Regions from separate parts of the Homo sapiens genome. Here all the other regions are reported to be linked to region 3. The links are microRNA targets in miRTarBase. Many come from high-throughput screens and were not tested one by one. Region 3 holds a microRNA gene; each other region holds the end of a gene's coding sequence.

The links. Region 3 holds the annotated microRNA hsa-miR-504-5p (AGACCCUGGUCUGCACUCUAUC, at 2,497-2,518, shown strand). A microRNA usually pairs through its seed, bases 2 to 8, with sites in the 3' UTR of a target mRNA and lowers its output. Matches are read on the target gene's strand: a 7mer-m8 pairs with bases 2 to 8, a 7mer-A1 pairs with bases 2 to 7 and ends in A, and an 8mer does both.
Region 1: the mRNA of C11orf58 is a reported target of hsa-miR-504-5p. The part of its 3' UTR that is shown has no 7-base or 8-base seed match.
Region 2: miRTarBase lists MTFP1 as a target of hsa-miR-504-5p. The part of its 3' UTR that is shown has no 7-base or 8-base seed match.

Annotation. Positions count from the first base shown.
Region 1 is chr11:16,754,246-16,761,445 of GRCh38, forward strand. C11orf58 (chromosome 11 open reading frame 58) reads left to right here. Exons shown (of 5, transcript NM_014267.6): 5 at 626-4,095. The coding sequence ends at 859. Among named protein-coding and RNA genes, the nearest start is that of C11orf58, 19 kb to the left of the region's middle.
Region 2 is chr22:30,427,825-30,435,024 of GRCh38, reverse strand. MTFP1 (mitochondrial fission process 1) reads right to left here. Exons shown (of 4, transcript NM_016498.5): 4 at 5,971-6,563. The coding sequence ends at 6,491. It overlaps LOC105372990 (a long non-coding RNA gene), which reads right to left and starts at 2,339. Exons shown (of 4, transcript NR_148046.1): 1 at 1,781-2,339; 2 at 1,130-1,408; 3 at 640-733; 4 at 1-4.
Region 3 is chrX:138,663,078-138,670,277 of GRCh38, reverse strand. It overlaps MIR504 (microRNA 504), which reads left to right and starts at 2,485; the gene lies at 2,485-2,567. All of the region lies in intron 3 of FGF13 (fibroblast growth factor 13), which reads left to right.

The sequences.
Region 1 (7,200 bases), not on the chromosome of region 3:
TTTCTTTCAGGAAAATATAATACCATGGTTTTCAAACTAGGGGAGGGGAGATAGGTGTGTGATCTTCAGAGCACCTCCCCTCTTGTTTTCTTTTGTCTTTTAAGAAATGGAGTCTTGCTCTGTCACACAGGCTGGAATGTAGTGGCATGATCATAGCTCGCTACAGCCTTGAACTCCTAGGCTCAAGCAATCCTCCCACCTCAGCCTCCCGAGTAGCTAGAACTACAGGCATGCACCACCATGCCTGGCTAATTTTTTTCTTTTTTCTTTTTTTTTTTTTAGTTTCTCTCTCTCTCTCTCCCTTTTTTTTTTTTTTTTTTTTTTTTTTTTTTTTTTTTTTAAGAGACAGGGTCTCACTATGTTGCCCAGGCTGGTCTCAAACTTTGGGCCTCAAGCAATCCCCCTGCCTCTCAGCCTCTTGAGTAGCTGGAATCCCAGCCACAGGTATGAGCCACTGGGCCCAGCCAGACAGAGCTCTTTCTTAAAATTCTACTCAAGTCTTAAAGCTGTTGTTCTAATGGCTACAAAGTAGAGTGTTTCTAAGACCGACAGAACTTACGGTCTTTCTCAGATTTTGTATGGGCTAATGTTTATTTTTAAAAGAGCCTGTTGATTGATGTTTTAGGTAGAAGACCATGATGGAGAAGGTGATGTGGCTGGAGATGATGATGATGACGATGATGATTCACCTGATCCTGAAAGTCCAGATGATTCTGAAAGCGATTCAGAGTCAGAGAAAGAAGAATCTGCTGAAGAACTCCAAGCTGCTGAGCACCCTGATGAAGTGGAGGATCCCAAAAACAAAAAAGATGCAAAAAGCAATTATAAAATGATGTTTGTTAAATCCAGTGGTTCATAACTCCCAAACGCTTAGTCTTTGTATTAAAAGTAAGCCTTATTGTTACAATGCACAGTGGAGGACTGCTTATAGAGCACAGACCTTTGTATTATAATTTTTAAAAAGGCCCTTTTAAATAATTACAAAGAGTGTTTGCTTTCAAATGCCATGGGTTACACTTTTATGGGCATGACTATAACCATTTTTGTAAAGAGTAAGAGTTGTATAAAATAAGAAATAAATACAGTACTCAACTTCCTTTCATATTAGCATCATCAACCCTCTAATTCACCTTATGGGGGAAATGCTTCTTTTTGTTTGTGATAGCTATTTTATCATTTCCTTCATATTTTTCTCTTATAAAAATGTATTTGATACTGTGATATGTTCACGAAAAGTATTCTTTAATTATTCTTTGTTATAGTAGAGCTGTTCATTATGGATATTTCTGCTGCCAGTCACAATCTAAATTAATTTTGGCAAAAGATTGGGTACTTAGTTTCCTGTTACTGAGTTAGCTCTACTCTTTTGGACCAAAGCAACATGAGAGCAAGTACTTTTCACACTTGTTAAGATGGAGTTATAACTGTCATACATTTGGAATATTATGATCCCAAGTAGTCTTTTTATAATTTGGATTGTATCGTATGTTAGATTTTTGATAAAATTTGGCCAATTTTTACAGAAGAAATTCTCTGATCATTTAGTTCTGTCTATTTAGAAATATGTAAAACTGGATTTTTTTTTAAGTAATATGTGACCAAAGTTAATTTTGTCCCAAAGGTCTAAATAAAGAGCAGTTTCCCATATTTGGCTGTGATACCTTTATCCTCATTATCTACAAATGAGGAACAGGCTTACTGATAAGAAGCTGAAACAAGAAATTCTCTTCATTTTATCCCAGTGCTATTTTATTGATTAATTACTAAAAAGTATTACTTTCTAATTTTATTGCTGTTTCTGTTGGTGTGAGATTAGAATCATCTGACTGCTATTAGGTGGTTGATTTGTATAGCTGATTAACACAAATTGCATTATGAGCTAGTAAATGGATCTTTGGATAATGGGGTCCAAATTCTTAATGTTTATAAGTAACAAGTTCAAAGGCTTTAGTCACACCTGTTTGTGAGCTGAGCTATTATACATCTACATACTTAAAGGATGTATTTGGAGTGTTGGATTTTTTTTTTTTTTTTTTTTTTTTGAGACGGAGTCTCATTCTGTCGCCCAGGCTGGAGTGCAGTGGCGCGATCTCAGCTAACTGCAACCTCTGCCTCCCAGGTTCAAGCGATTCTCCTGCCTCAGCCTCCCAAGTAGTTGGGACTACAGTCATGTGCCACTACTCCTGGCTAATTTTTTGTATTTTTAGTAGAGTTGGGGTTTCACGGTGTTAGCCAGGATCGTCTCGATCTCCTGACCTCGTGATCCACCCACCTTGGCCTCCCAAAGTGCTGGGATTACAGGCGTGAGCCACCACGCCCAGCCTTGGAGTGTTGGAATTTTTAAAAATTATTCTTATGTCACTTTGAAATGTAGAACGTGTTGCCATGTGCGGTGGCTCACACCTATAATCCCAGCACTTTGGGAGGCCGAGGTGGCTGGATCACCTGAAGTCAGGAGTTTGAGACCAGCCTGACCAACATGGAGAAACCCCATCTCTACTAAAAATACAAAATTAGCTGGGCGTGGTGGTGCATGCCTGTAATCCCAGCTACTCAGGAGGCTGAGGCAGGAGAATCACTTGAACCCAGGAAGCGGAGGTTGCAGTGAGCCAAGATCACCCCATTGCACTCCAGCCTGGGCAACAAGAGCAAAACTCCATCTCAAAAAAAAAAAAAAAAAAAATTTAGAATGTGTTAGAGAAATTTAACAAGTAGAACAGGTGATTTCTGGTTGATAGACTCTATCTTGCAGTATATTTATTTCATGTATCAGACCCCAAAGTTGTTGCCTTGTTATTTTTTTAATTTCTCACATTTTTGAAAAATAGATGCTATCCTCTATAGTAAAATATTGAATCACTTTATAGTAGACAATACATATGACATTTAACAAATACTTGGTTTGAAAAAGTTTGGCTTTATTCAACAATTTTAGTTTGCCCACTGATTTTCAAATGTCTGTGGGATTGCTTATAACTAAGTAGAAAGTGAAGACTGATTTTTACTTAAGAATGGGATAGAGATGAGTTTTATGGTTTTTAAAAGTATTTTCAGTTCATTATTTAAATGTTGGGTTGTTGATATGGTCTTGTTTCTGATAAGGAAATAGGAGCAACTTGTTTTAAAATAACTACACTAAAAGACTTTCTTCATCTCCGTATAGAGAAATCCAGATTTCAATTAATTCATTTATTGGGTGCTAACAAAATTCAGGGTTAGAGTAAATTTAGGTCTGTTGGTCCATGTGGCCTGGTTTCCTAGCACCCATTAAACATAATGCTATCTTTTAAGCCTGAACATGTGGGTTTTTTAAATCAAATTGGAAAAAAATTAGACAACTGATGTCATGCTGTCTTGGTATCCATACTAAAAAAGTATCAGGAAAATAGATTATTTTTGTGCTGTGAAACACTATTCAGTGGAAAGTTTAGTGGCAACTTTTCCATATCATTCATGACTTAATACCTGAAATGCACTTTTAAATGTTTGCCTTATATCCAAGTGTTTACTTGTATCCATGACCTAACCGTCTATTGAAAAGAATGTTTGCAGATGCAGATTGCAATGTTGTTTGTATTCATAGGCAAAAGTCCTCTTCTCTAGTATAATTTTTTAAATCTGAGAGAATTGAAGGTACAGAAAAAAATTCTGGAGTGCCTGAACCACAGTTTGAGAGCACAAAGGTCACATTCTTTCAGTAAATTTGGGGGAAATAAATTTCAGCTACCTGGTTAGCTTCAGTGACTACTTACACACAGGGCTTTGGTTCCATTACTTGTTTCCACCACAGCCACATCCTAAATACTTGGAATATCCGAAAACAACTTCTAAAATCACTCAATAAAAGTATTCACTTCTAACCAACTCCTCCTCCTTTATACCTGCTCTGTGTTAGGGCGTAGTCTGTTTCCACCTCTGTAAGTCCTATCTAGGCTTCCTGATCTATCAATTCAGTATCATGATTGTTAACCCAAACGACTTCCTGGAAAATTCCCAGCCCTAGATGTATCCAAGCCCTCCTACCCTCACCAGTTATTTCTGGAGAAAGATCACCAAATGTATAAATCCGTATTAGTAAAAATTGGTTTTAACTGACCTCAGCACTGCCCATTACCCTTATTTTCTCTAGTCGGTTCTCCATTCTTACTATGTAAAACTTATACTCTGAAACTTGTTACCCTCTTTTTTTCCTTCACTCTTAACATGTCCTTGCCTTCTATCTTACATAAAAATAGAGACCTTCAGGCACAAATTCCCTGAACTTCACTTACTAAATCCACAGCCATGGACAAGATTCTGTGCTCTAGGTTGTGACATCCCAACTCTACCACAGGGCTAAACTCGGTGACCTTGAGCATAAGTTGATCTCTCTGGGTCTCCTTTCTGGGTAAGTAAAATGAGGATAGTAACAGTAACCCCCTTTGCATAGTTAGTTATTGTGAGACTTAGGTAAAATGAACAAAAAGCTTAGTGCATAGATAAGTGATCAGTAAGTGCTGGCTCCTGGTTCCCACCACCCCCTCTGCCGCCCCGAGATGGGGTCCTGCTCTGTCACCCAAGCTGGAGTTCAGCAGCATGATCATGGTCATGGCTCACTGCAGCTTTAACTTCAACGGGCTCAAGCCCCTCCCACCTCAGCCTCCTGAGTAGCTGGGACCACAGGTGTGTGCCACCACACCTGGCTAATTTTTTAATTAATTTGTAGAGACTGGCTATGTTGCCCAGGCTGGTCTTGAACTCCTGGTCTCAAGCAATCCTCCTGCCTCAGCCTCCCAAAATGTTGGGATTACAGTTGTGAACCACCACACCCAGCCTACTGTTGAATCTTTTAAACCTTGTGAATGTAGTGCTTATTATCTTCCCTTGAGTCTTCAACCTCCCCCTTAATCTGTGACCCTTTTCTTTTGGCATTTGTTCAAGTATTTCATATCTTTTTAAGCAAGTTGCTCCTAGGTACCACCTATGTTTGGTGTAATTCTCTCATCTATATCTAATTTTAGTAACTTTTCTATTACTGCCTCTATTTCTTACTTCCATCCCCTCCCTCCTCAATCCACTCCAGTGTGGCTCCTACCCACCCTAGACACAAGAGCACTGAAAACTTTAATCAAATCAATTATTGACATTTTCCTAAAACATAAGTACTTGTAAATTCTTCCCTTGACCTGTTAGCAGTACTTAGCATTGTTAACCAGTAGGATGTACGTGCTTAGTACATGAAGGGGTTCGGTAGATAATTTCCCAATCCTGTACATCCATATGTATTTGTTCCTAAATTGATCTGCCTTAAGACAACTACCTCTTATTTCACAGCCTTTCTCCCACTAGAGGAAAGGCAATACCTCTCAGCCATGCCAGACCTACTGTGTTTAATTGTCCCAGGGAATAAAATATTTCATGGGTCCAAACAAAGGGACAATTTGAAACATTCATGTTTATGTTGAGGCCTGAATGACTCCCTTTGCAAGTCAGATGGTTTCTGTCATCTGTCAGATGCCCTCAATGAAACTAGCAGACAAGTGAATTGTCAGCTAATTTATTAAAAATAAATTTTGATGCAAGATCACTATGATTTTTGGCCTAAGAGTTCAGAAGATTGACATTCCTAAAACCTATTATTGACTTTTTATCATGTGAGCAAAGTTTCTCAGTGCTTTCATCTATAAAAATAGAAAATGGACGGACGTTTTCTACTTTAGGAACTCCAGTTATGTGCATGTGTCATTTCCTATCTCTATGTTATTTTTCTTTATGATTCCTCTTCCTTATTTCCCTTATCATGATTCAAACACTGTATACCCCATCATTCCCACTTTCATTTTTGCGGTTATTTTTGATTTCCTGAGTTCTGCCAGCTCACATTTCACTCTTTGTCATTTCATTGTATCTTCCTTTTTTCTTTTCGAGACACAGTTTCACTCTTGTCACTCAGGCTGGAGGGCAGTGGCACCATCTCGGGTCACTGCAACCTCTGCCTCCCAGGTGCAAGTGACTCTCCTGCTTCAGCCTCCCAAGTGGCTGGGATTACAGGCGCATGCCACCACACCCGGCTAATTTTTGTATTACTAGTAGAGATGGGGTTTCTCCATGTTGGCCAGGCTGGTCTCAAACTCCTGGCCTCAAGTGATCTGCCTGCCTCGGCCTCCCAAAGTGCTGAGATTACAGGCATGAACCACTGTGCCTGGCCTTATCTTCTATTTCTGATGTATGTTCTTGTAGAGATGAATCTTTAATTAAGATATTAAAGTCATTGTAAAATATTTAATCATAATTTTCAAATATTTGAAGCAGTATTTTTCTGGAGAGTGTTTTTCATCTGCCATTTATTTTTCTCTCTATTATATCCTTATACAGAGCTTTTGCTAGCTTTTGTTTTTTTAATTGTCTGATCAACTGCAAGTATTTATTGAGCACCTGCTATGTGCCAGGCAGTCTTAGGCACTGGGAGTACAACAGCAAACAAAATCAGACCCTGCTTTAATAAAGCTTAGACTCTAGTGGAGGGGAGACACAATAAACACTTCATATATATATACATACACACACATACACACACACACGTTATATATATAATATATATAATAACGTGTTATATATAACATCTATTATATATGTATTATATATATGTTATATAATACATATATAATATATATATAATGTATATATTATGTATATATACACCATCTCGGCTTTTAGTAGAGATAGGGTTTCACCATGTTGGCCAGGATGGTCTTGATCTCCTGACCTCGTGATCCATCCGCCTCAGTCTCCCCAAAGTGCTGGGATTACAGGTATGAGCCACCATGCGTAAATATATATATATATTTACATATATATCTCATATATATGTCAGATGGTGCTAAATATTAAAACAGGGTTAAGAGATGTAATGAAAATAAGCTAGGGTCAGCAGAGGGTTATGAGTTCAAAGAGATAGCAGGAATTAAGATCATTAAAGCCATGATATGAACTTTGAGTTTTATTCTGAGGAGAATGAGAAGAACTTGCAGATTTTTTTAATTAGTGTGACATGATCTAATATTGCTTAAGCTGCAATATTAGATCATATCACACTAATTAAAAAAAAAAAACTTGGGAAGCCAACTGTGAAAATTAGATTATGGCAATATTCTAGGTGAGCCCAAGGGCTTGGACTAGGGTGGTAATGGGAGTGGTGGGAAGTAGATTCTGGATATATTT
Region 2 (7,200 bases), not on the chromosome of region 3:
GAATCTGGAAGCCAAAGACATCAAAGACAGTTTTAAGCCACAACACAACATCCCCTCACACCCCCAACACACACAGCTATAAACTTCTGACCTTCTACTATTTGTTTACTGATACTGAAAGTTGAGAGAATATGAAGCTATTTTTTTTCCAAGGACAGAAAAGATAACATGTTGTTTATACTATGGTGTGAGTGACTACAAGCCTTCTCTCTCCTCTATGAAACTCTCAGAAGGGCATATATCAAGGGTTATGTGGGTGGAGGTGAAGGGGTCTCCAGATATCTGTTTAATAAAGATTACATGAGAGGCTCAAAAGTGGCAGGCCAATCTAATGCTCTCATTTTGCACTTGGGGAAACCAAGGCCCAGAAAGGGAAAGGATTTGCCCAAGGTCCCACACAGTAGAAGCCTCTCCAGACAGGATCCAGAAGCCAGGACCCTCCTTGGTTCTGATCAATGGGCACCTTGAGTGGGTCTTTGTGGTCCAGGCCAGTGTCAGTTTCCTCAGAGGCCTTTAGTAGCAAGATGATGTCTTCTATAAGCCTGTTCATGCAAGGCTGTGACTGATTCCCCGGGCCAGCTGCCTCCCTTGCCTCAGAGCCTACCTCCACCCTCCACACCCAAAACAGGGGCCTCCTACCTGCCAAGGACCTTTGATAGGGTAATCAGGGGGCCAGGCAGGTAATCTCACAACTGTCACTCATACTCCCAGGGAGGCATCCAGAAGTTCTTACCTAGAGGTGAGGGATGGAGGTGGTCAGTGCACCAGAGATGGGAGCTAGGGGTGGCATGGACCAGACCTGCATTTAACAAGCAAAGAAACAGAGGCTAACAAAAGGTCAGTGACTTGCCCATGATGTCACAGCCAGCAAGAGCTGGAGCTGGGATTTGAACCTGGGTCTAGGTCACAGTCCAAAGCCTCCATTCCCAGTATACCTCACACTGCCCACTCTAGGCCAAAGCAGTTGGGCTTGTGGTCCAGCCAAGCATGGGGAACTATTGCAGAAATTCAATCTGAGCTATTTTGAGCCTCAGTTTCCTCACCTCCCACACAATTAAGTGAGGTCATGTACCTCAAATGCCAGTTACAGGGTAAGGCATGCAGTACACCTTTGGTGAACATGACTCACCATGAGTGCCCCTGTGGAAGGAACAGGCCTTCTTGGTAGCATCAGATGGGACCTTTAGATTCCAGAGCAACAGCTTGTGGTGCACCCCGTAACTTCCAAAGATTCCTCAGCTTGGGTCTCTGTTCCTACGGGGTGGCAGAGTGGGGAGGGGGTTATCTGTTTCCACTCACATCAGCAGGAGTACCAGTAAAGCTGAAGGCCTGGAAGGAGAGCTCCAGTCTCTTGGGGACCTCTTGGGGCACGAAGTGGGAGTGGAAGTTCTTGCCGTTCACCAGGCACCTGGAAGGCACAGGTTGGAAGGTCATCAGGGTCAGACCCCTGAACTGGGATCTGGTCCTAGCCCCAACACCACCATACACCATCATTTGTTGAGAATTCTGCATGCCAAGCACTGAGCTAAGCGTCACCCCATTCAGTCTACACAGCAGGCTTTGAAGATTCTGGCACTATCCCCATTTCACAGAAGGGCAAACAGAGGCTCCAGAGGTGAAAGGGCCAGTAAAGCATTCTTGCTCCCCTGGCCTAGAAAGGACTACTCAAGAACGCCCAGGGAGCACTATCTGGGCATCCGTGCCTTCCAGCCCTGGAAGGCTCTCAGCCCCTGTCCCAGCCTCCCCAGAGATATCACCCACTGAATTGTACCCATCCTACCCTATCCTCCTCCTCCAGGTTCAGTACCCATGATTCCTGACAAGGCTGTAGTGTGCAGGGGCCACTTCCATATCCTGGCTGGGGCTGATCACACACTCGTCCACATATACCTGTAAAGGCTAATGGGAGCTGCCAACCACAGCAAACTCCATGTGGAGCTCAGAGCCCAGGAAAATGGTGCTGGTGTTGGTGGGGTCTGGATCCTCCAGTATGGCCCCACCCTGAGGTGGAATGAAACCAAGATGGGGAAGACACGAGACCCAGAGATGCTGAAGGGTTTGCCTGAGGCCACACAGCAAGAGGAGAAGCAGGAAAAGCTAGGGCCAGGTGGCCAGAAGCCCAGTGCCCTCACACTCTGTTACTGGTCCTCCCTCACTTCCTTATTTCTCCAGGGGTAACCTGGCCCAGAACTGGAGGCACAGGAGTCCCTGAGCTAGAAGACCTTCCTCTTGGGACATTACTTCAGCCCAGCCAATGTCCCCCACCTGTGGGAGGCAAAGAACCAGGCCAAAGTCTCATGCTGAAGTCCAGATTTCCAAACGCAGCCAGAGAGTCAGTGACCAAGGAGGTGGGAGGTGAGATGGGAGCTCCTGGGCTGGCAGGGAAATAAGGGGGGGGCGGGGAACATTGCAACTCTGGCATGTGAGGGGGCCCAGAAAACAAACACTAAAGGCCCATGCCAAGTCCCCCAGGGCAGCCCATGAGGAGGAAGAACAGGAGGGAAAAGGCCAGGAATTCCAAATTCCAACCCCCAGGTGAGCATTTCCAGCCCTGCCCCAGGCTCACACCAAGTGGGGGCCAGGAGGTCAGCGCCTGGTGGCCCCTTTCTGGAGGGGCAGCCCCCATCCAACCTACCATTCCCTCTTCCTGCAGACCTCCAGGTGGCAGGGCCCTAGACAGGCTTAGGGGTGCTAGGCATTGCTCACGCCTTGACCACACTGCTGACCCAATGGCGGGAGGCAGCACTGCAGGGCTGCTCTGAACTGGGTGGTGGTGCATAGACCAGGTCAGCAAATAATTCCACTATCTTTCCTGAGATCTGCGAGGATACTTGCTCCTTAGGATGGTGGGAAAAGGCAGGAAAGGTCTACTCCCAGCTTGGGCCCCCACCTCACTGGGTGGTCTTGAAGTCACTTGCCCTGTCTGGGCCTCAATTTCCTGCTAGGCCTCATTCGAGGTCCCTGTCTTGCTTAAATGCCTATTCTGGCAGGGCTCGGTGGCTCACACCTGTAATCCCAGCACTTTGGAAGGCCGAGGTGGGAGGATCGCTTGAGCCCAGGAGCTGGAGACCAGCCTAGGCAACATAGCGAGATCTAGTCTCTGCAAAAAAAAAAAAAAAAAAAAAAAAATCAAAAAATTATCCAGGCACACGCCTGTGGTCCCAGCTACTTGGGAGGCTGAGATGTGAGAATCACTTGAGCCTGAGAGGTAAAGACTACAGTAAGCCATAATTGCACCGCTGCACTCCAGCCTGGGCAACAGAGCGAGACCCTGTCTCAAGGAAAAAAAAAGCCAATTCTGCTTTGAAGAATGATGTGCTGAGTTGCATCTGGTGGTAGACAGTGGGGTCTTCCCTTCTGTGAGCCTCAGTGTCTTCATGTGGAATATGGGAATGATGGTTTTATCTCCTCACGGGGCTGTTGAGGATGCAAGAAACAAATGCACGTAAAGGGCACGTACAAACACACAGATGCTAAATGGCAAATCTGCATCAAATCCTTAGCTACTGAATTCTGCAGAGATACAGGGCTCTGCATCTTTGAGAGAAAAACTCACACTCGGAGAGGCTGTGACTTGCAAATCAGTATGATCTGATTCTACCCTTCTTTCCAGCCCAGACACCCCAGCTCTTCTCCCCCGAATCTCCCGGGTACTCCCTGGCTCTTGGCAGCCTTGTCCTCGTGAGCCTCCAACAGCCCCCTCACCAGTTGGATGAAGCCATAAGCTTTGAATGGGGCAGTGAAGACCTCATAGCCAGGTATGGCAGGGACTGGGGAGGGCAGGCAGGTGCCAAGGCACAGGTGGCAAGCATCCACCTGGGGCTCCTTCCTCACTGCCAGGAGGACATCTGTCTGATTACAGTCCTGCAGGAGGCTGTCTCCTGGCAATCCAGCCCAGGCTAGCTCAGGCGGAGAACCAGACTCAGCGAGAACATGGCCAGCAGAGGGTGCCCAAAAACCTCCCCCAGCATCCCCCACCTTCAATTAATTCCCTGCATCTCCAGAATGGAGCAGGGAGCTGGGCACAGTGACTCACGCTTGCAATCCCCGCATTTTGGGAGGCTAAGGTGGGCAGATCAGTTGAGGTCAGGAATTTAAGACCAGCCTGGCCAACATGGTGAAACCCCGTCTCTACTAAAAATACAAAAATTAGCTGGACATGGTGGCATGCACCTCTAGTCCCAGCTACTTGGGACACTGAGGCAGGAGAACTGCTTGAACCCGGGAGGCAGAGGTTGCAGTAAGACAAGTTTGTGCCACTGCACTCCAGCCTGGGTGACAGAGCGAGACTCAGTCTCAAAATGATAATAATAATAATAAATGGAGCAGGGTAAAATGTTGGGGGGTTGTGGAGATGGTGGTGTTTCCCCCTACAGACAGGATGTCCACCGACCTCATCCCTATCAGCCTGGCCTGGGAGTGCCTCAAAGCCCCTTCTGTGAGCACCTACTATGTGCCAGGCATCTGCAAACTTGCACCCCGGTATTTCCTCACAAGTTACCACCAACGGGGCAGTCAAGGGCAGAGGTGGCCCACAGTAAGGCATAGTAAGGGGCAACAACAGAAGGGGCACTGGAGCTGGTTCTGAAGGGTGCTCATAGCTGGCCAAGAGGAAAAGGATTTGCAGCTGAGGAACAGTGTGTTGTGAGGAAAGGCATAGAGGCACAGGAGGGCAGGTGATGGGGAGAAGGACAAGGCTGGGCGCTTAGGCCCATGAGCACAAAGCCTATATGTGGCCTGCACAGATCCCAGCTTGAGGGAGAGCCTGCAGAGTGGAAAGTGGAGAGTGAGTGAGCAAGGAATTGGTGGTAGATGCCAGGAGATGTCACAGGGATGCAGGTGTGAATGTACCCCGCATGGGGCTGTGACTGCCGGGGGAGAAGATGAGCTGGGAAAATGCTGGGCTGGAGAAGGATGTGAGTGCCAGCTCAGACAGGGAATGGGGGGTGGGGTCGGGGGCTAGAGAACAAGGCGGGGCTTAAAGCCTTTAAGGGAGCTGGGAGGGAGTGACAGGTGACTGGGCAGAGGCCATAGGGGCTTGGGAAGGGGACCTTGCCAGTGTGGGACAATAAGAGTAGCAGAGAAAGGCTCAGCCCACATCAGACTCATCCTGTAGCCATGGATACCCCCAGAGCAGCAGGGGCCACCACCCCGGAGCCCCCATCCTGTCTTGCTGGCAGCACCCCTACCCAGCCCTGCAGCCCCTTTAAGTCCCAGCCCAGGTGCAGGTGAGTCCCACCAGGACAGGGTCAGCCTACCTGACTGCACCTGGGCTGCAAGGGATGGGGCCAGGGTCTTGGTGGGAGCTGATTTGGTGCTTGGGGCAGGGCTGAGAGGGGCCCAGGTCTGCTTCAGCCCTGTGCTCCCACCTCTCTACCTCTCTGAGCTGTTGAGGGGGATGGCCCAGGATCAGAGGAATGGCCCCCTCTAGCACTCTCGAGCCCAGCAGCTCAGGGGAAGCCACAAGGAAAACAGGCCATTCCCTGATTCTGAGTGTAAGAAGCCCCCTGGTCACTTCCTTCTCCAGGCTGCCGAGTCCCCTCATGAGGAGGTCTCATGTGACCCTCATATGGGGCTGACACCACCATCTTGGCCACCTTCAGGCTCAGGTGGTATCTGCCCAACAGGCTCCCCTCCCAGAGGGGTTGGTGCTTTAGGAGGCTAGAAAAAGAGGGCAATGCCAGGCTGAGTGCAGTGGCTCATTCCTATAATCCCAGCAGTTTGGGATGCTGAGGTGGGAGGATTGCTTGAGCCCAGGCATTCAAGGCCAGCCTGGGCAACATAGGGAGACCCCCATCTCTATTAAAAGTAAGTAAGTAAAGGGTAATGCCTACCCCAAAGGAGGCTGGCAGCACCAACGTGGGATGCCAGGCACCTGCAGGGAAGCACTAATGGGCGGGGAGACTGCTACCCATCCCTCCTCCCCACCACCACATCCCTGCTCCTCCCAAACAGAAATGAAGACATAACAACCTCTTCAGGATTTATTGGGTCAGGGAAGGGCCTGGCCAGAGAATCTGTCCTGAGGTGTCCCTGGTACTGCACTCCTGAGTTTCTCCCTGAGTTGTCTGCCGCTCCTTGTTCAGCCATACCACCATGGGGTGACTCTGTCAAGCACCTGGGGGTCCTGGGTGCCCAGCTTGCCAAGTGATCTTGGGCCTATTCCTTGCCCTCCCTGAGCCTCAGTCTCTCATCCTCCATGGGAGGATGTAATTTTCCTGAAAAAGACAGGGCCGGGCCCACCCAGGGTCCACTTCCACTCAGCATCTTGGATTCCAGGGAAGCAGACAGCGTTCAGGTCCTGCCCTTCTGTGACTCCCTGCAGCCACTGCTTCTTGAAGCCTTTGTCTCTAAGCTTCTGTCCAGCTCAAACCCACCCAGGTGCCAGGGTCTTTGGACACCAGGGAGCCAGGTGTCCACATTCCCTGGCAGGAGTAGGAGGTTGACATGAAGCAGGAGGCCGATGCACAGGCCAGGTACCAGAGTATGATCAGGAGGAGCTGGGCTTCCCCACTGTTGGGTAGAGCTTGCGCAGGCTGGAGTCCAGGAGGAAATCCACCGACCTGTAGGGAGTGGAAGGGTGGTGAGCAGGTGACCAAGGGTGTTCATGAGGGAACAGAAGGCAGAAGGCCAGGGTTAGGGAAAGGGGCGCTTAGATGCAGGATACAAATGCCATCCAGCCAGAGACCCACCCTTATCCTGATCCTTCCACCTTGGGCTACCTGGGGAAGCTAGAATCAAACTCCCAGAATAGAAGCCATCCTCTTCTTTATTCAGGAGGAAACTGAGGTACTGGGTAAAAGACTTGCTCAGGGCCTCAGGGTCAGCTATCTTCTCCTGGAGAAAGACTGCTCCTCTCACTCTTACATTGGTCTGGTTGGGTTGAGCCCATATCTAGTTCTAAGACCAAGCACGTGACCCAAGCCTGGCCAATCAGCAAAGGGAAACTGGCTCATAGGGTGGGCATGCAGTCCAGAATGGACCAATGACACCCTTCCTTGGGATTTTTGTTGTTACTGTTTAAAAGCTTCTGCTGGGGGAGGCTAAGCTGGTGGGATAGAACTTGGGAGCTGCTAGGGCCATTTCTACTCCCACAAGGAGAAAGCAGGTGAAGCCAGCAAGAAATAGGGTGGGGTGGGGAGAAAGGCAGCAGGATGGGGAGACCCAGACCCCTAATGACATAATTTGGGTACCTAGATC
Region 3 (7,200 bases):
TTTCTTCCCTATTCTGTTTTTAAATTATTGTAAATTTCAAAGTAGCGAAATTGGAATAAATGAGATTTTACTGTGTACTTTGCCTGGAGCCCTCTCTTGAAGTGTATTCAAAGGGAATTAAAGGGCTTATTAACGGATAGGACTATTTGTGTTAAAGATGAAGTCTGTTGAACATTTTCACCTAAATATACCAATCTGATATTCTTGACGTTTTTTTGTTAAATTTGATGCTGACAATAAAAACTTTGGAATAAGCTATAATTTCTGCATCCATGCATATTCAGGTCTGAAAATGAAAGAAGAGTGTGACAGGTTTGCATGTAGAACTTCCCACCCACTCATTTCTTTCCTTTCTGCTTCTGACACTTCAGCCTTTGAAACAGTTTCCCATGAGCAATACTGAGATTCAGACTATTTAGATCTAAAGGAAAAAATGCAAGCTCTTCTACAGCTTGTATCTAGCACCTGGAAACGTCTTAGAAGAAGTGCTAAAATGTAAATAATGCTGTTATTTGTTATGCACATAGGAGAAATCCTAAAGGTATTTTAGGGAAGAGATGGAATCCAGAGATATTAAGAACAAGGTGTGGGGGCCAGGGGAGAAGGGGAGAGGCAGAAGGATCCTATCCACATTATTAAAGTGAAATATTTCCAGTATACTCTTATCAACTGACATGTAGACTGCATGCCGCTTTCATGCAAAGGTATCACATTTCAAACTTAGCATTTAAAAGAAGCCAGACAAGAAAGGAAAAGAGACAGTTATTTGTTGAAAAAAGTCTGGGTTTAGCATCAGGCACAGGGGTTATTGGTAGTTGTCTGAAGTACACTGGAGCCTTGTAACATTGTTTTGTGCCATGTATTGCCAGCCTGATACCACTGGAGTACATCCTCTGTCTAGTTTTCCAGAACTCACTACAATAACTGTAGGATTTTTCCATCCTTTATGAAATTGCATCAGTATTGTGAAGGGCCTTAAAAGCCATTCAGTTCAACAACCATCTCCCAAAAGAAAAGTTCCTCTTCTTTTTCCATTTATTTTATCTCTTCCCAAAGCCATGGGGACCTAGATACATCAATTATCCTTTGTCCTGTACCTTCACTACCTCCTGGACTACTACCTTTTTTCCACTGGCATACAGATCATTTCAAGACTTCTCATCCTAAAAAGTCCCTCCTAAGTTTCTCTTTCAGACTGTCTCTTTCCTTTGATAGGCAAGAGCTTTCTTCATTTTCTCGCCTATTTTTAAATTATTCAGCTTCACCTTTGCTTTTATTTTCTCATCTAATTCTTAATTATTCAGCCCTCCGCATTCTATCTTCTGCCCACATTGCCATCCATGAACTCCTCCTGCTAATGTCGCTAGTGACTGCCAACTAAAATCCATTTCTCCCTTCAGTCCTTACCTTATTTCTCCTTTCTACAGCACTTGACCAGGTTGGTCAACTTTTTCATTGAAACCATCTCTTCTGTGGGCTTTCACAACACTGCTTTTTCTCTGTTCTACACCATCACTATTTTTCTTTTAATTTTTACACTTCCCTCGTCTTTTCTGAAATGTTTGATGTCCTCCCCACCCCCAGTTTCCAGCCTCAGTAGTTGTCTTGTATTCTGCTTGTGTTCTCTAGATTATTAAATGTATTCTTGTGGTTTCAGTTACCATCCATATGCAGACACCTTTCATCTTGAGAGCCAGGCTTATATATACAAATGGCTGCTGCACATTAACCTATCACTAATGGCTCTTTAAACTCAAAATAACCAACAATGGAGTCATTGTCTCTATCTCTGAAATAGAACACACTACCCTCCCCCACTTCTTCCCCTTTTTACCCTGTGGCAACAACCTTTTGCTATCCTGATTTTAAGCAGGCTGCAGCATCATAATAAATGATACATAATATCTGCCTTTAAAATGCCTGTAGTGGTTAAGAGGGAGGGCTCTGACATTACATGGATTTGAAACACAATTCAAATGCTTATAAGGTTTATGATTTGGGGCAAAGGAATTATTAATCCATCTGTCCTTTAGTTTCCTCATCTATAAAATGGAGGTAATAGTAGTATAGACCTCATAGGGTTCTTAAGAGGATTAAATGGAATGATAATACATGCACAGCATTTTACAGTGTTAAGTTCATTAAGTTAACAAATGCTTCATATTATTTGCCGTTACAGTCCATATAATAACATGCTGCCTTCAGGCCAATATATATAAGCCTATAATTCTTGGAAGACTATGGAAATCCTATCATATATTAAATTGTCATTTTTTTTAAGACTAAGAAAAATTTATGTAAAGTCCAAAAGTACAGCTGTTTACAGGGGACGAACTGATCCACAAGGCCACAGTCTACCCTCATCAGTTAGTGTCCATCACTGAAGTGGAATAACTCAAAAGGAAAAGGTAACTCAACGAGCCATCCATTTCCCACATAGAATCACAACAGAAGACAGAAAATATGGAGTGGAATGTTGAATCAGCTGCTGTTGGGAGACCCTGGTCTGCACTCTATCTGTATTCTTACTGAAGGGAGTGCAGGGCAGGGTTTCCCATACAGAGGGCACAGACTACCACCGTATGGCAAATGTTGACTGGAACTCAACTTCAAAGCCATTTCACCTGGAATCTTACCCCACCACCCCAATGCTTCATGAAAATTCAACTGATCCTCTTCTATGAAGAAACTCAATCCTGATAAGTCTCTTTAGTAGTTATTGAAATGTCTTTGTAACTCTCTTATAGTCAGGTTCAGTAAGAATGTTAAGTTTCTAATTGAGCTTTTCTTTCTGAACAGTTATTTTGTGTATGTTTATTTTCTGTTTACCAATGTAATATATGTTCTTTGCAGAAAAATTGGAAAATACAAAAAGGTATCTACAAAGTCCCCCAACCAAGAGAAAACCAATATTAATGTTCTGTTATAGATCCTTGTAGTGGCTAGCTGGAATTCGTGTATATCTCTCTCTCTCTGTCTTTGTCTTTCTTTCTCTCTCTCTCTCTATATATATACATATATTCCAAATATACATTTTTATGTAATATATATGTATATTATATATGTATACATATATTCCAAATATACATATATATCTTCATGTAATATATACGTATTTTATATATATGTATAAATACATAATATACATATATAACCTAATATATGATATAGCATAATATATGTATACACATATATGTGTACATATATAAAATACATATATATTACATAAAGATATATATGTACATTTGGAATAACTATGCATACCATGTTTCAAACCTGCTGTTTACTCGTTATTATGACTATTCCTCTATATATTAAAATATTATTCTTAATCTACATTTTAGTGGTTGAATAGTAATAATCTATTTAGTTTGTTCTCTGTTTATTTGTTTTTGTTTTTGGGAACAAGGAACTGTTCACACCTAAATGTGTACAACCTTTATGTCTAGATCAGGCACTTGAATTCTTAAAAAAGTGTTAGGAAATGGAATAATGATCTTTTATTTATAAGTTGTATATGTTTCTGTATTCTGTTCATATATGATAATTGAAATAGACCTATATCTAACACTTTAAAATTTATAGTATTTTCATCTTTATTTCCTCATTTGATCCCTGCTACACCTTGTGAGATAGAGAAGGGCTTATTATTCTGTCCTTATAGATAAGGAAACTTATGTCCAGAAAGATGAAGTGGTTTTCCAAAAGACACGTAGCTAATAAATAATTGACAACATTGGAATTTGGAATTAGAAAGCAAGTCTTGTGACTCCTAACCAATACTCTTTCCAGTACACTTTGCCATGTCCCAACTTCACTTTCTTTAAGTGCTTCTTTCTAGCACCTCTTATTCAATTATTGTCATACGTACTTTTTGGATCATACCTTAGGAGAATGTAGCTTTCTCATGAATTTCCTCATTAGCTGACAACTGAATATGGCTAGATTTTAACAATAAAAACACATTTTTTTCTTTTCAGGAATGCAAATACACAGTGTATTATATGTAGAAAAAACTCTCAGATATTGGATCCTTATTGATGAGGCTTATGAGATAATATAGCAACTCAGACTTTTCTCAGGAAGAAGAAAATCCATGTCTTTTGTTGGACAGTTTAGAGAGTCTAGACTACCATCATTCAGCATTTGAACATTTTGATTTCAAAATGTAGACAATTGAAGAAATACAATGTAAATGCCAGGGAATTAAATCATAGGACAAAAACTCCCTATGAAAACATCTTAGTGATAGCATACATGTTAAAATTTTTGAAAACACTGGGAATGGTTTCACTTCTCATCTGAGTATCTGAGAAACAGATGATTATGTACCTCCCAGCCCTGTGTCAGCCCTAATTTAGTTGATGGCATTATTGCTCCCTGCTTTCTTTTTTTTCTCTTTATAGCAGATTGCTATTCTTTTTTACTTTAAAATAGCACCTTTTGCTGCCCTGTCTTATCCTTGTGCTCTTTTAAAAAGTGGTCAGGCACACACTTTTGTCACTAGTTTTACATGAGGGTAGGGGCTTTCTCTTTTCTTTTCAAAAATTAAGTGCCACTACATCTCAGTTAAACTGCCTTCATCTGACAAGCACTTACAGAATACTGAAATATAATCTACTGCAAAAAATCTACATGTTTTTCATAAATACGAATGAAATGCTTTTAATATTATCCCTGTGTTCAGAGTTAATGCTTAGGCATTAACTAAAGTACGCTAGACGCTTTTGATATATTTCCAAAGGCCCAGCCAGAAAGATATATTGCAGATACACATATTCTAAGTGTTTACAAAATCTTCCAAAATTATTTTGCCTGTGTCTGCTTAAAAGGCACAGGAAACAGCTCCCCTACTATCTCCTCTATCCAGTCAGGAACACTTGCAGTAAGGACACTGGTTGTTCAGTGCACAAGGATTAAAGTAACTTAATTACACAGTCAAATCAATAATAAATTGAGATCATTAGAGCCTTGGCTCGAGCTGAACCCCAGGTAGCCGTGGAATCCCTATGATACTTGAAGAAGAATTGACACAGATTCTAAGGCCTCACAGGTTCAAGGAGAAGCAGACAGCCTCACTTTGTTCCTTCAAATTAGTTTTGAGTGGAGGAATCTTAGGTTTAAGTGAGACCTGGATCTTGTTTTGGGGTGATCTCTGGAAACTGGGATATAATCTACTCTCCAGGGTAGAAGACTATGAAGGGACTAAAGGAGCAAACTCTAGGTCACTGAGAACCCCTTTCCTACAAACAAAGATCTTGGTTGTGTTCCCTCACTTCCAGAGAGCTCATTGGACCGAGCATACCCTTGAGTATTAAGGTCAGTGCATACTGAGTTTAAAAACAACATAGGTATAAAATTGAATGGAGCAGTGGTGAGGAAGGTGGAAAAGGATGAGAAGGGAACTTCCTTTGGACTTCTTTGAGCCAAAATAAGTAGTATGTTTCCTAAATTCTTGTAATCAGACCATTGTTGGCTATTGGTAGAGGGAGGTTCAGATTTTCCATCTCTATCTTTTTTCTTCTGTTTCTTGGTCCTTCTGCCACTGCTTCTTTTAAAAAGAAATAAACTCATTTTTTTCTCAGCCTTATGTGGGAAACCCTCTTGGCATTTTCTAACTGCCAAGTGTTCTATAACTAGCCATCTGTGGAATATTTTTTTGTTAAGTTAATTTTTTAAATTAATTCATTTCCCTTTTCTCTCTCTCTCTCTCTCTCTCACACATGCAAACTAGTGTTTGAAGATCAATGAGCAAATGATCTTTCTTGTAACAACTTCCCTTTTTCAGCTGATCGCTTTTCTGAATTTTATCTCCTAAAATCACTTAAATAATTTCACTGAAACAAAGGAATGATTGGTCTTTTAAAGACTCGTACATGTATTGAATATAACATTTCCGACCTGACTAATAATTTGAAGTAACTTTGAGCTTTTCGAGGGCCCTAGCCAAAACAAAATGTTAGATGGCCTTTAACATTTATGTCTTCAAGGGACTGTGCTAGCCAAAGTTTCCTCCCAATCTGGAGGCAGCTTTGTGCCATAGCAATTTTCAGGCTTCATTGCATCAATCAAACAAATTGTTCTTGTAGTGCTTACTTACTGGGGAATTCACCAGCTGGAAGATTGTACCATTGAGCCAAAACAGGCCACTGGAACAGCCATACTCTTTACTTCATTTATGGAGCCATTTAAGAAGATGCTGTAGTGGCAGCTGCCTGTTTGTCAGAACAGCCTTGGAGGTGTGCTGAATGAAACCTAATTTAGACTAGTAGATGATCAGATGACAAAGAATACCAGAGATACAGGTGAATCACAAAAGAAGATGCTGTGAGACTTTCTGTAAGGAATTCCCCACCATGACTTTAGAAAAACTAAAGTTTCAGCTGCAGTTATGTTGAGTGAAGTGTAAAGCCTTGAAAACATAGACTAAAATGGTCCCCCTCCTCTCTCTCTTATCATATAAACACACCCCAACCCTATAATTTTTCTGATACAAATTGTATTTGGATTTTGCATAGATGGCCAGTTTACTTTTAAATAAGAATTATATGCCTGTTTATTTGAATGTCTGTTCCTAAGATTATCCACAACCACAACTCCATTTATTATATGTTTACATAATGTTGGGTGAGGGAGAGTAGTCAATGATGATTCATTTGGGACTAGATACAGAATTAAAATATAAAACAAATATTATCATTCTCAAGGTTTTAATAGATGGCTGAACACAAGGTATGAGTTTAGAAATTGTCATCCTGGATTATGGTGTGGATTTTATGTGCACCTTTTCATGATGGGCATCAGCTGCTTTGTATATTTTGTTCCCAAATCTTGTTAGTCAACTTTCAACTATCTGTGTATATAAATAATCAAGGTGATGTTAACTGCTTTATGGATTTTCTTGAGCAATTTAACACAAGATTGATTAGTGATTTCTGTCTGTAGAAAATGTTTGATTCCAGGCTGGCTTAGCCTCACCACACTTCTGACTGCCTCCTCCCTATCTGAGGAGGCTCAGAAAATACACAATCATTTCAATATTCACCTAAGCAAAATAAAATAGGAAGATAAATTTCTGCCCTGAATACTGTGATGCGTAATATTAATACAAAACTCCAAGAGAAATACATTTGAGGTAATTTTTTTTTTAACTTGGATAACTTAACTGTGAGTAGAGGCCTGTGATTCCACAACTTCACT